Linked DNA regions of Homo sapiens. The protein of the gene in region 1 purifies or fractionates together with the protein of each later gene. This does not show direct contact. Each region holds a gene or a part of one and is shown in the gene's direction. Other genes may lie near its edges.

Evidence for each region. The genes of interacting proteins can lie anywhere in the genome.
Region 2: the proteins of GRAMD2B (region 1) and EXD2 purify together in Homo sapiens (affinity purification with mass spectrometry; 3 studies listed by BioGRID and IntAct, with this or other methods). This does not show direct contact.

What each region holds. Positions count from the first base shown.
Region 1 is NC_000005.10:126,489,368-126,494,864, forward strand, and holds the end of GRAMD2B (GRAM domain-containing protein 2B), read left to right. Parts: intron 1-914; coding exon of another isoform or gene 915-917; exon of another isoform or gene 918-3,547; coding exon 3,548-3,589; 3' UTR 3,590-4,997; downstream 4,998-5,497.
Region 2 is NC_000014.9:69,236,457-69,243,497, forward strand, and holds part of EXD2 (exonuclease 3'-5' domain-containing protein 2), read left to right. Parts: coding exon 1-86; intron 87-1,118; coding exon 1,119-1,475; intron 1,476-2,614; exon of another isoform or gene 2,615-2,761; intron 2,762-4,427; coding exon 4,428-4,644; 3' UTR 4,645-7,041. UniProt on the Homo sapiens protein: Exonuclease that has both 3'-5' exoribonuclease and exodeoxyribonuclease activities, depending on the divalent metal cation used as cofactor.

The sequences.
Region 1 (5,497 bases):
ATCAAGAGTTTCAAATTAGCTTGCTGAAGGTGACACACCTAGAAAGGCAGCAGACGTGAGTCTGCTGAGAGAGCATTAGAAGAAAAATACATAAATAAAGTCAGCAGATCTGGAACCTGAACCAGGCCTGTCTGACTGCAAAGTTGTGCTTAGAAGCTCTCTGCTTTACTGTTCCTCAGAATTCAGCTTTAGGCTTTGTTGATAAGGCCACAGATGTACCTTTACCTCAAAGTATCTACAGTCCAAACAACGCTAGGGCAAAACTGTCCTTAGCCTGTGGCATTCTTAGAAGGCAGCAGGAGGGTGAGCTGGAGAAGAAGATAGGCATGCCAGAAATATCCCAGAAATAAACCTGATTTACATGTCTTATTTTCTTCTCCTTTATCTGATAACTACTTTGTTTTTACCCTAATCCTTCAGGAAAGGCTTAGAGAGAATTCAGTGTTCAATTACAACTGCTGTCACAAACGCCCAGTATCTGGTAGCTTTACATCATAGTACAGTTATGCTTACTTGGGAAGACATATTTCTTCATATTAAATACAAATTAGTAAAATTTCATATTAAATACAAATGAATAAAATTATCTTTGTTTTCCTACACTCAGTGTTAGTTAGTATTTAACAGCTAAAGTATTAAGAGCAAAGGAGTTTCCAAACTTATGTTCTAAACCAAGTCAGGTCAGAGAATTCATATTAAATCATTCTATTTATGGGCAAATGTAGAAAGTTCTTTACATCGAGAATCAACCTAGAGAAGGTATGAGTTAGCTTTCTTCCTTTCTAAAACATTAGTTTCTGAGAATTGAAGATAAACGATTTTTTTTAATGAAATGCTTACAAATGTTTGGCTTTCATGCAACCCAGAGAATGAAGTGGTATTAATTTTCAATTTTGTTCACTCTTACATACCAGTGATATTCTTTGGATTAGAAACACATGGGATCCTGCCGCCTTCTTTTGTGTTTCTTCCCACTCTCCCGCTGGGCCTGGCCGGGACACCACATTCTGTAACCAGGGAACTGAAAACAGAAGAGCTTGTTCACAGCAGGCAAACAGCCTCAGGTCTTGTGCAGGGTTCAGACAGCTTAGCAGGGAGGCCGGGGAGGTTTACAGGAGCACCAGTGGAGACTACCTTTGTCTCAAAGCAGAAACTGATTCAGTAAAAAGTGGATTTGGGGTCAAAATGCGCGTGTTGATGTTCTAAAAAGTTAGAAGTTGCACACATTGCTCAAAAGAATCTAAGTATTAAAAAAGAGGTACCAGGCCACACCCGTGCTCTTTTTGATTCATCTGCACCTTTCCTCAGAGGCAGCTGGGCACTAGCGCAGCACAGCCTGCCGGTGAAATAGCAGCTCCATGCTGTTGAAGGTCTTATACTCCATACCAGCAATTCCTTCTTCTCACCTTCGGGGGCCGGTGATGTCTAAGCCTCATGATCTTTCTCTGCTTATAACTTCCCTATTTCTGTTCATGGCATCACTGCTCTTTCAGTCATCCTCATTGGAAATCTAAGAATAATTTTTAACTCCCTCTTTCCACCTGCCACTGGTTGACTAGTTGGCAAATCCAGTGAAGTCTGTCTTCAAATGTCTCCTCAAAGTTTCTTCCCACAGGTACCATCCTAGTCCATTCAGCCTTCCCACTACCAGTCAGATAGTGTGAAGCTGGATCTCATTGTGGTTTTTGCTTGTATTTTCCTAATTATTACTGAGGCTGAACATCTCATATATTTACTGGCCATTTGGGTTTTCCTCTGTAAATTGCTTAATTCTCTCCTTTGTTTTAATTTTGGGTTTTGTGTGTGTGTCATCGTAGGTGTGTTTTGTGGATTTGGGATGTCAGTTCTTTGTTTTATTCCTTTTTCTACCTCCCACTCCTGTTTTTCCATTTATCTTTGGTCCTGAGGGATACATGAGGAAGAAACAAAGCAAGAAAGTTGGGGAAGAAAGCAATGTCTCTTACGGGAACTGAAGTAAACACTTATTTTCTTAGTTCTGGAAGTGGAATTAATGGTGGAACAGTATAGTAGAAAGAGCATAAATGTTGGAGTCAGGCCTTTGTTCTTATCCCTGCTCCACTGCTTACTACCCACATAACTCATCCTGCTACTTCAGCTCCCTGGCCCTTGGTTTCATGTGTAAAGCCTGTCTTTGTGTGGTGTTGTATGGCTCAGGAGCAGGCATGCCTTTGCTGGCACTTACATATCAGATCCCCTTCCTCCTCACTCACCTGAGAACACCCATAGGACATCACAGACTGTTCCTCTAAAAAACAATATGTTCTTTCTTTTCGTCTGCAAGGTTTCTACTCCCATCACAGGGCTGGTTGTTGAGAATTCCTTGCTCTGAATTCTTTTTTTTTTCCTTCTTTGTTTTTTTTCCCAAGACAGAGTCTTGCTCTGTCACCCAGGCTGGAGTGCAGTGCCGCAATCTTGGCTCACTGCAACCCCCACCTTCCAGGTTCAAGCAATTCTCCTGCCTCAGCCTCCCAAGTAGCTGGGATTACAGGCATCTGCCACCACACCCAGCTAATTTGTATATTTTTTAGTAGAGACAGAGTTTCACCATGTTGGCCAGGCTGGTCTGGAACTCCTGACCTCGTGATCTGCCCACTTCATCCTCCCAAAGTGCTGGGATTACAGGCACAAGCCACAGCACCCGGCTTCTATGAATTCTTACAAGTTCCTTTATTCAACGGTCATTTACTGAGAACATTTTTGATGTCCAACATCGGACCCGTCTTAAGATCCAAACATCTGACGTGGTTGGTCTCTGTCCCTGTGAAATCCACAACCTTCTTGGAAATGTTAAATAATAATATCTAATTGGAGTAACAGGAGTGTTAAACATTATTATGTGGGATTTTTCTGATTAAAACCATCAAATGGGTTGTGTAAAGACCAATTTCCCATTGTCTTCTAATGCATTTGGGTCACACTGGTGTTGCCAGTTCCTTGTTCTTTTTCTTCCATCTCATTTATCTCAGTCTCTACTGACATTTTCATCTTTCTGCCATTCTCTCTTTTTTTTTTTTTAAGCCCTGTATTTCCTCATTTTAAAGTGGATTGTCAGCTGGACATGGTGGCTCACACCTGTAATCTCAACACTTTGGGAGGCTGAGACAGGAGGATCACTTGAGCCCAGGAGTTCTAGATCAGCCTGAGAAACATGATGAAACTCCATGTATACAAAAAGTGCAAAAATTAGCCAGGCATGATGGTGCACGCCTGAAGTCCCAGCTACTTGGGAGGCTGAGGTGGGAGGATCACTTGAGCCCAGGAAGTCAGGGCTGCAGTGAACCATGATCACGTCACTGCATTCCAGCCTGGGTGACAGAGCGAGACCCTTTCTTTTTCCCAAAGAAAAAGTGGATTGTCAGAGTTCTAGTCTATGAAAAAGCATCTATTTGCCTCACCTAAATTTAACCCTTTTGTAGCTTTTTATTCAAAGTGGAATAATATAGAATGCTATATAGACTATAACAAATATGCCCTTAATATACTCCATTCTATTTAATAATAGGAACTTCTTTTCTTTTATTTCAAGATACAAAATAACTTACAGAAGTTGCTTGAGAATGGTGACTGATCGACCAGATTGCTTGGGCCATCGGAATACCTCATGTTTCCCTTTGAAGAAGGTGCTTCCTGAGGCGTTTTGTTTGAGTGCACCCTGCTGGTCAGAGGTGCAAGCAGATGAGAATCCAGACATTGCATGTGGAGGTCTCCAGCTCAGGAAAGTGAGGAGGGAAATAATTTTGGTTCTTGTGCAATAAAAGTTGACCTTGACTCTCTGAGGAAGATTTTGCTGCTTTTGCCTGAAGAAAACAGACCCATCTCTGGAGGTCTCAGGAAGGGCCCAGCGAACACACTCTCTTGGATAATTACCACGATGGCGTCAGCAAACACTCCACCCTGTGCCTTTTTAGTCCTTCCCGCCCTCCTGCCTCTCCCTTACACCCCTCTTAACGACTTTCAAACTAAAGGATACATCATATACTGACAAACTCAATGTGGTCCTTTCAAGAATTAGCCATGAGTCTCAAAAAGGCAATAAATGGCTCTAAGTGGACAGGTTTGCTTCAAACAAGTAACATCTACATTTTGTCTTTTTTTTTTCAGTTCTCCTGTTATGTTCTGGTTGAAATCACCTGTGTGTCTTAATTTCTCAATTCCTTTTTGGCAAGAATATCAAGCAAGGTGAATTTAACATTATGTTTATGTTTTGTTTTGTTGCTGTAACTAATAGTTAATTGGACTGATTCTTACCCAGCCCTGGTCAAGAATCTGTGAGGCATGTGACTGAAGTACTAAATTAAACTTATTTTGAAACCAAACCTAATTTTTAAGCCAAAAGGTGTAATAGTGATTTAATACAGGATGAAAAACACTGAATTTTTAAGACTGTAGGTGGACTATGTTAGTAGTTTTCAAGCAGGATGTCTGTATTCAGCATTCAATAATGCTAAAATCCCTTTCAGCATGAAATTTGTATGTTTTTATCCTTTGCTGACTAAAATAAAATAACTGGTGGTTTGCTAACTATTTACCATATGGGTTGGCTGGTTTTTATTAATAATTGTTTAGGGTATCATAAGATCTGTAAGTACAAAGGATATTCTGTTTCTATCTGCAATGCATTTGATAATCATTTCTATGAAATGTATTTTATTTAATCAGATAAGCTAATAAGCGAATTGGTTACATCGTTTGTATCTGTTGGCCTAGTGGACAGCTGTGCCTGGTGCACCTCTGGCTTTTAATAAATACTCATTGGTTGAAACACCCTGCTAACACTGTGTTTTGTCAGTTCGTAAATTCCTTTAACCAAGACTTAACTATGCTTTTTAACTCTTTTTCCACCTGCCATCTACTACTACCAACTCACTTATACTTCCTTCCTCCCAAGTAATCATTTCAAAACTAAAAAAGGATTTAAGTTCTTGGGTTACAACGGTTTAAAGGAAAGAAAATGAACTTTGAAGTCAAAAAAAAAAGAAAAAAAAAAAAGACAATGCTTCATTCCTCAGTCCACATTTATGAGTTATGTGACCTTTAGCAAAATATTTGGCCATATCCCCCCATTTTATTGATGAGGTTGAAAGTACCAGTAAAAAGTATCAGTGTGAGGATTAAATGTGATAATGTCAGCCAGGTGCAGTGGCTCATGCCTATAATCCCAGCATTCTCGGAGGCCAAGGCAGGAGGACTGCTTGAGCTCAGGAGGTTGTGATCAGCCTGGACAACGCAGCAAGATCCCATTTCTACTAAAAATAAAAATAAATTAGCCAGGTGTGGTGATGCATGCCTATAGTCCCAGCTACTCAGGAGAATTGCTGAAGTCTGGGAGACTGAGGCTGCAGTGAGCCACGATCACACCATTGCACCCTAGCCTGAGTGACAAAGCAAGACCTTGTCTCAGTCAATCAATCAGTCAATGTGATGATGTCTCTAAAGCACATAGCCATGTCAGGCAAGTAGTATGCTTTCATAACAG
Region 2 (7,041 bases), on another chromosome or scaffold:
GGAAGGCCCGAATCTCCTGGAGACTATTACTTGATGGTTAAAGAGAACCTGTGTGTAGTGTGTGGCAAGAGAGACTCCTACATTCGGTGAGTGCAGCATTGGGCCACCCTGGTTGTCTGTGGCAGATGGAAATTGCTTTTGTAGCCATATGCAGAGCCTTTGGGGGCTGTGGCTGAGTCTGTCCACTTTGGCTGAGAGGCTTGTTCCTAGTATCCAGCTTCCCCAAGAGCTTTGGTATTCTGCCGCCCTTGCTATAGTGGCCCTTACCCCTCCTGAGCCGTTTCTCAGTTTCTGGAGTGCAACACCATACTCAGTAATGGTCTGTCATGGGGACAGTGGTTCCCTTTTGCTCATGAAAGACTGAAGACCAGTTCCTTCAGAAGCTGTGTCCCTCTCATCCTCTCTTGACTGGCTGACCAGCTTTTTGAGCCATGGTTTTATTCATGGAGTATCCAGATGTCCTGAAGCCTGCTCTGTGTTGTAATACTGTTTCACATCAGGGCCCCTGCACTGTGAGGGTGAGGCTGCCGACTACGTCTGAGTGCCCAGACACTTGGGCTTTCTCCCTGGCTTCTGTGGAGTCACTCACTTTCCTCCTTTCTCCCCTGCAAAGTGAGACAAAGTCATTGCTGCCAAGAGTTTTTCCTGAGAGCTTAGTTCTCCTTAGAAAATAATGATGAACCTGGTGAACCAGGGAAATAGATTAAGGTATTCCTCAGATGAAGGAAATTGGCTTTTTCAGGTTCCTAGGCCTTCTTGAGAGAGTTGTTTTCCAGTTGTCAAAGGCCATTAGAGTATCTTTTCAGTTCTCTGAGACTTTCCCTTCTGGGAGCACAGCCTTCTCAGAGGTTGTTATTAACCTGTCACTATGCTGGCCCACCACTGAAGCCCACAGCAGGTGGTCTGTACTTACTTGCAGGAGAGAGGAAGCTAAGACACAGATGGGCTGAGAGTGGAATAGGTGATACTGCCTTTCTGTGATCTGTGTTGGGCGGTGGTGCCCAAGGCTTCTCAGTCATGGTTAGGCCCCAGTTAGAACCCCAGTAGCCTGTCTGCTGTCTTCCCATGTGCTCTGTCATACACTTATGAGCGCTGCTTTCCGGCTGGGCTTGTTCCAGGAAGAACGTGATTCCACATGAGTACCGGAAGCACTTCCCCATCGAGATGAAGGACCACAACTCCCACGATGTGCTGCTGCTCTGCACCTCCTGCCATGCCATTTCCAACTACTATGACAACCATCTGAAGCAGCAGCTGGCCAAGGAGTTCCAGGCCCCCATCGGCTCTGAGGAGGGCTTGCGCCTGCTGGAAGATCCTGAGCGCCGGCAGGTGCGTTCTGGGGCCAGGGCCCTGCTCAACGCGGAGAGCCTGCCTACTCAGCGAAAGGAGGAGCTGCTGCAAGCACTCAGAGAGTTTTATAACACAGACGTGGTCACAGAGGAGATGCTTCAAGAGGCTGCCAGCCTGGAGACCAGGTACAAAGCACAGGAATTGTGGAATGTACCAGGGACATTAACCCTCATTACTTAGTGAGAATGCTTGCCAGGGAGGGGGCATTGGCTGCTTAGGCACAGTGCCTAGCCTCATGCTTCACCTAGTAGGTGTCTAGTAGTTTAAGATACCTTGGAAGTGGAATAGAACAATCTACTTGAGGAGTTCCTTTCCATAGGAAACTTGCTTTTGTGAGGTGCCTATCTTTGACCTTTTTAAAGATCATACACTTAATTTCGGTCATTTTTGTGATTAGCGTGCGAGTGCAGTTGTGGTGGAGCTGCATCTTACACATTCTATGCAGACGTAAATCCTCATGCCAGCACATGAGATGAAATAATAGTCCAATAACACCCTCGAAGTTCTGAAGTTCCCCATGAGATACAGTACATTCACCCCTCAGTATCCATGGGGGATTGGTTCCAGGACCTCCCTTGGATACTAAAATCCACCAATGCTTAAGTGCCTGATATACAATGGCATAGTATTTGCATATATCCTGCACACATCCTCCTGTATACTTTAAATAACCTGTAAATTACTTATAATACCTAATACAATGCAAATGCTATGTAAGTAGCTTTTATATTTTATTGTTTATGAAGTAATGAGAAAAAAGTTTGTACATGTTTGGTACAGATAGTACAGATAGTTTTTTTTTTTTTTTTTCCAAATAGTTTTGTGGTTTTTTTGTTTTGTTTTTTTGAGATAGTATATGGCTCTGTCACCCAGGCTGGAGTGCAGTGGCACTATCTTGGCTCACTGTAACTTCCACCTCCCAGGCTCAAGTGATCCTCTCACCTCAGCCTCCCAAGTAGCTGGGACTACAAGCATGCACCACCACACCCAGCTAATCTTTGTATTTTTTGTAGAGATGGGGTTTCACCAGGCTGCCCAGGCTGGTCTCAGATTCCTGACCTCAAGCAATCCACCTGCCTTGGAAGAACTGGGATTACAGGCATGAACCACTGTGCCTGGCCCCAAATCATTTTGATCTGAGGTTTGAATCCACAGATGCAGAACCCACAAAGATGGAGGGCCAATTCTATGTGTGGTTTTGTGTCTCCGACTTTATACAGGTCTGTGAGAACTGTGACTAATGAATTCATGGTTCCTATCTCACCTGCACTCCAGGGTATCGGCTCACTGAATGGAATGTTGAGCAGAATTGCTGTTACTATGTAAATTACTTTTCTCTTTTTTCCTTCCTTGCTTTCTCCCTCCTTCTCCATGAGTACATAGTTGAATTCTTGTGACACAATGCAGTATTCTGAAATGAGAAATGAATGGGCACGTGGCTCAGATGGTAAGAGCTCTGGGCTACCATGCGCAGTTCTGCCTCCCAACTGTCACTTTTTCCAACAGGACCAGGAGTTGAAATAAGGGAACTGATAAGTTCACAAAACCTTGAGCGTGATGCTGGTTTTTGTTAACTGAAAAATAAAAAAGTAACTCCAATTATAAGCAAATATTTAATTTTTTTAGAAAACAAAAATTTTTTTACTCTTATCCATTACTACTGATCCATTACAGATACTGCAAATATTTATTGAACAGTTATTTATAGATATACTATATCTTGCAGCAAACCAGCTAATAAACTTCACATAAATTGCCTTAATTGTTTCTCATGACAACCCGACAAAGTAGGATTTAGATTTCTTACTGGTTAACTGCTACTATATCTTAAATTTAAAAAATCTTTCAGGGTTTTAAAAGAATTATAGAATTTTATCCCCATAACTATTTTGTGAGGTTGTAGAATAGATGTTGTTTTGTAAGTAGCTGGGATTACAAGTGTGTGCCACCACACACGGCTAATTTTTGTATTTTTAGTAGAGGCAGGGTTTCACCTCGTTGGTCAGGCTGGTCTCGAACTCCTGACCTCAAGTGATCCTCCTGCTTTGGCCTCCCAAAGTGCTGGGATTACAGGCATGAGCCACCACGCCCAGCTGCCAATATGTTTTCTAAAGCAGCTAAACCTCCCCTTTCGGCCACAGACTTTTCTAACAAATTCATCTTGCTGAATTGGGTAGATGAATGCTGGACTTGTGACTGAGAAGAACAGTTGTTTGGAGACAGGCAAGTTAGTGGGAAGCGCATGAGCTAAATATTAATAATAAAGTGTCTGCAGATACCCAGAGACGCCAACACTGCTGGGGTGGCGGGTGTCTTGGGAGGGAGGATTGAACATGGGGTATGGATGTAGGGAGAGGAGAGTGTGTGTGGGCAGGGTGCTTCCTTGAGGAAGGTCATCTTTATTCACAGGAGGTGAAAGCACCATTCACACAGCATCGGAGCAGTTTTTTAAGGACTCTGCTTAGTTAGGAAGGAGGGAGGCATTCATCTTCTCATTTAATGGCACCATTTGCACAACTGAGCAACCATGGAAGCATTTCACTGTGACCGAAACACTTCTCACCACTGTGGCTTGGCATCTTTTTGTGAGAAAAAAGGCTCTAAAGAAATATGCTACCTTGCATTTGACATTCAGTTATTAAATTGTGTTGTGAAAAAGTGTAACATGCGGGCCGATTTAACAGCCTCATATAAATACTGTGTCCCAGAATGAACAACTTAAAAGAGGGGTGAACTGGTCACTGGGTAATCCTGGAAGAAATGGAAGACCAGCATTCTTCATCCATTATCAGCTGGATGGTAGTGCCCCTCTCGTGGGAGCTGAACATTATGAAGTGGCCTTCCTGTCAGTAGAGCTCAGAACCCTCAAATACCTTCTGTTGGGATTGCGAGTCGTATGTTCAGACTATAAAAAGGGCAGAGATAAGAAAGAGGATGTTTCGAAAACACCAAAGTAACTAACCCTTTAGGAGTCCTTCAACCTCCCCAGTTACCCTTGGCGCGCAGCATTTGAAGCTGTCTGTGAGGCCATCCTGCGCTTGTTTCCCTCAGACACTTTGTTTTTCATGTTTTGGCAGAATCTCCAATGAAAACTATGTTCCTCACGGGCTGAAGGTGGTGCAGTGTCACAGCCAGGGTGGCCTGCGCTCCCTCATGCAGCTGGAGAGCCGCTGGCGTCAGCACTTCCTGGACTCCATGCAGCCCAAGCACCTGCCCCAGCAGTGGTCAGTGGACCACAACCATCAGAAGCTGCTCCGGAAATTCGGGGAAGATCTTCCCATCCAGCTGTCTTGATAGCTGCTTTCCTCCCAGTTAGGACAAGTGGGAAGCTGGAGCCAAGGTTGAAGAGTCACCTCTTCCCATTTTAGTACATCATTAATTGTCAAAGCCTGTGTGACACAACTCAGAATACTAACCTAGACTAATCCCAGGATGCTTCTGCTGGAGCAAAGATATTGTTTGAAGGAGAGTTTATGGTTTTGGATTTTAAACGGGCAGGGTCTTTTTTCCTCTCATTTTTGTGGACAAGAGAGGCCTTCGCCTTTATTTTTACTCTCCCTCTTCTGCTGTCCCTGTGCAGAGGAAAAATGAAGAATTCTCCCAGAAGTGACTTGTCAAGACTTAAAAAAAATGTTTTTAATGCATTTCTTCCTTGTCTAGTGCCTCGGTTTATCTCTAACAGGGGCTGTCCAGTATATCGGTCCTGTTAGGAGGGGAGAAAAAGTTCTTCCAAAGGCTGGAGAAGTGAACAAGGAGTCAAATTTATTTTCCCAATTCAACTTCATAATTATCATTTCTTTGGCTTCATGCTCTCCCGTAACTCATGTGGTTGGGATCCATCCCATCTGGGTCACTTCAGTCTACTTCACGTACTTGAAAAGGCTTTCCTTTACACTTCCAGGACCAAACAGCAACTTCCTGCCACACACTTCCACCCTATCACTGGGAGAAATCCTTTTCTGGACATGAGCCTTTGACCTGGGTGGGGCAGAAAGAACCACAAACTCCATCTCCCAATAGAACTTTGAAATTCACTCAGCTTTTCCTTTCATGCTGTTTGTTGCCTGCTTGTTGCACTCCTCCTGCCCCAGAACTGCAAGATTTTTAGCTTCACCCCTTTCTGAGAGTAATGTTATCTTTTATCAGAATCAGTATCAGTTCCCCTGTATTCTGTGCTTCATCGAATTTGCAAGACTGACCTCTTTTAAGCATTTAATTCACTCCCAGAGTCATCTGGTCAGGTTGCAATATGAGGACTTCTCTGTCTCCTCTGAAGCCTGGGACACTGAGCTTACTTAATACATTAGATGTTCAAAAGAGGAGCGTTGTTTCATCTTTCAAAATGTTAGGCCATTACTTTGAGTATAAAATCGACTTATTAATGATTAGTAATTTTTCTAAAGTATTGGGAAAACTTTCTTATTTTATAAGATCTTAACAAGCTTAAAAAAGAATTTTATGACCAGAATCCAACAAGAGCTCTATTTTGGAATTGTGCCCAAGTTGGTGATGTTTACTCTAAAATTAATAATAAAACTACTTGTAAGCACAAGGCTCACTGGATGTAAATGTAAAACTTCGCGACTTTATAAAACTGGCATTCCTAGGGGAGGGGCTATTTATCCTACAGGTCCCTGCCTCCTGGCAGTGCCATGGTATGTGTGCATGGATATACCAGACACAGTCACCATCGGCCATCAGTAGCAGCCCATGAACCCACGTGCACATCCTGCATCTTGCTCTTCTGACCCTTCATTCCCACTTGTCTTCAGGCAGGCATTTCTGGGATCTAAACTAGAAATCCTTGAAAACAAATAGTACCAGCCACTTTGAGGAATGTGCATTCACTGTAGTGGGTTATTATGGGGTCTCTGCCTCCTGGCTGTGTTATGCGGAGCCCAGGAGTGGAGGAGAGCCGTGGAAATAGACAGGGAGAGGCTGGTACTTGGGTTGTGGTAATAGTCAGGCTTGCCACAAGAGGGCACTCATAGATTTGTTTTTATATTCATTCTTGAGAAAAAAGCAACTGGTTACTGAACGTAACTCATGACTTATGTTTCAAATTTTGCATAGCTGATTTTAAGTCATTTTGATAGCTTTGCAAGAAAAATTTTTCCTTTGAAACAAGGGAGTAGGGCTGTTTCATTTTCTTTCCTTCTAATCCTCATGCCAAGAGGTGAGAAACACTTAAGGTCATTTAAGGTGCTAGGGAAAGGGTTTTCCCATGGAGCTTTCTGTGAGGCGCAGTAAAATAGAGCCAGCAGCAAAGTAGAGGAAAAAGCCAGACTGCGTCACACAAGATTTCTCATCCTTTTCAGGAGAGAGTCACTGTGTAGATTTGAATCTTTTTTCTTTGAGTCTGCTTTGAACTTTAGCAGGCTTTTCCTAAGACTGACAATTGTCGTCTTAAATCAGAGATTTGAGGGTAGACTTATTTTATGGCAAATGTCTATTTTTCTGATATAAAAGTAACAATGCTCATTACAGAAGAATCTAAACAAAGAATAAAAATTAGCCATCTTCTCTCCATCTAAAACAGAGCTAAACTTTGCTGATATGTTTATGAATTTCCTTTCAGTATTAAAAAGTGCATATAAGGTGTATATTTACACAAAATTGAAGGTCATACATAGATACAGGTTGGTATCCTAACTTTACCCTCTCACTGATTAACATGGTATCACGAGTAAC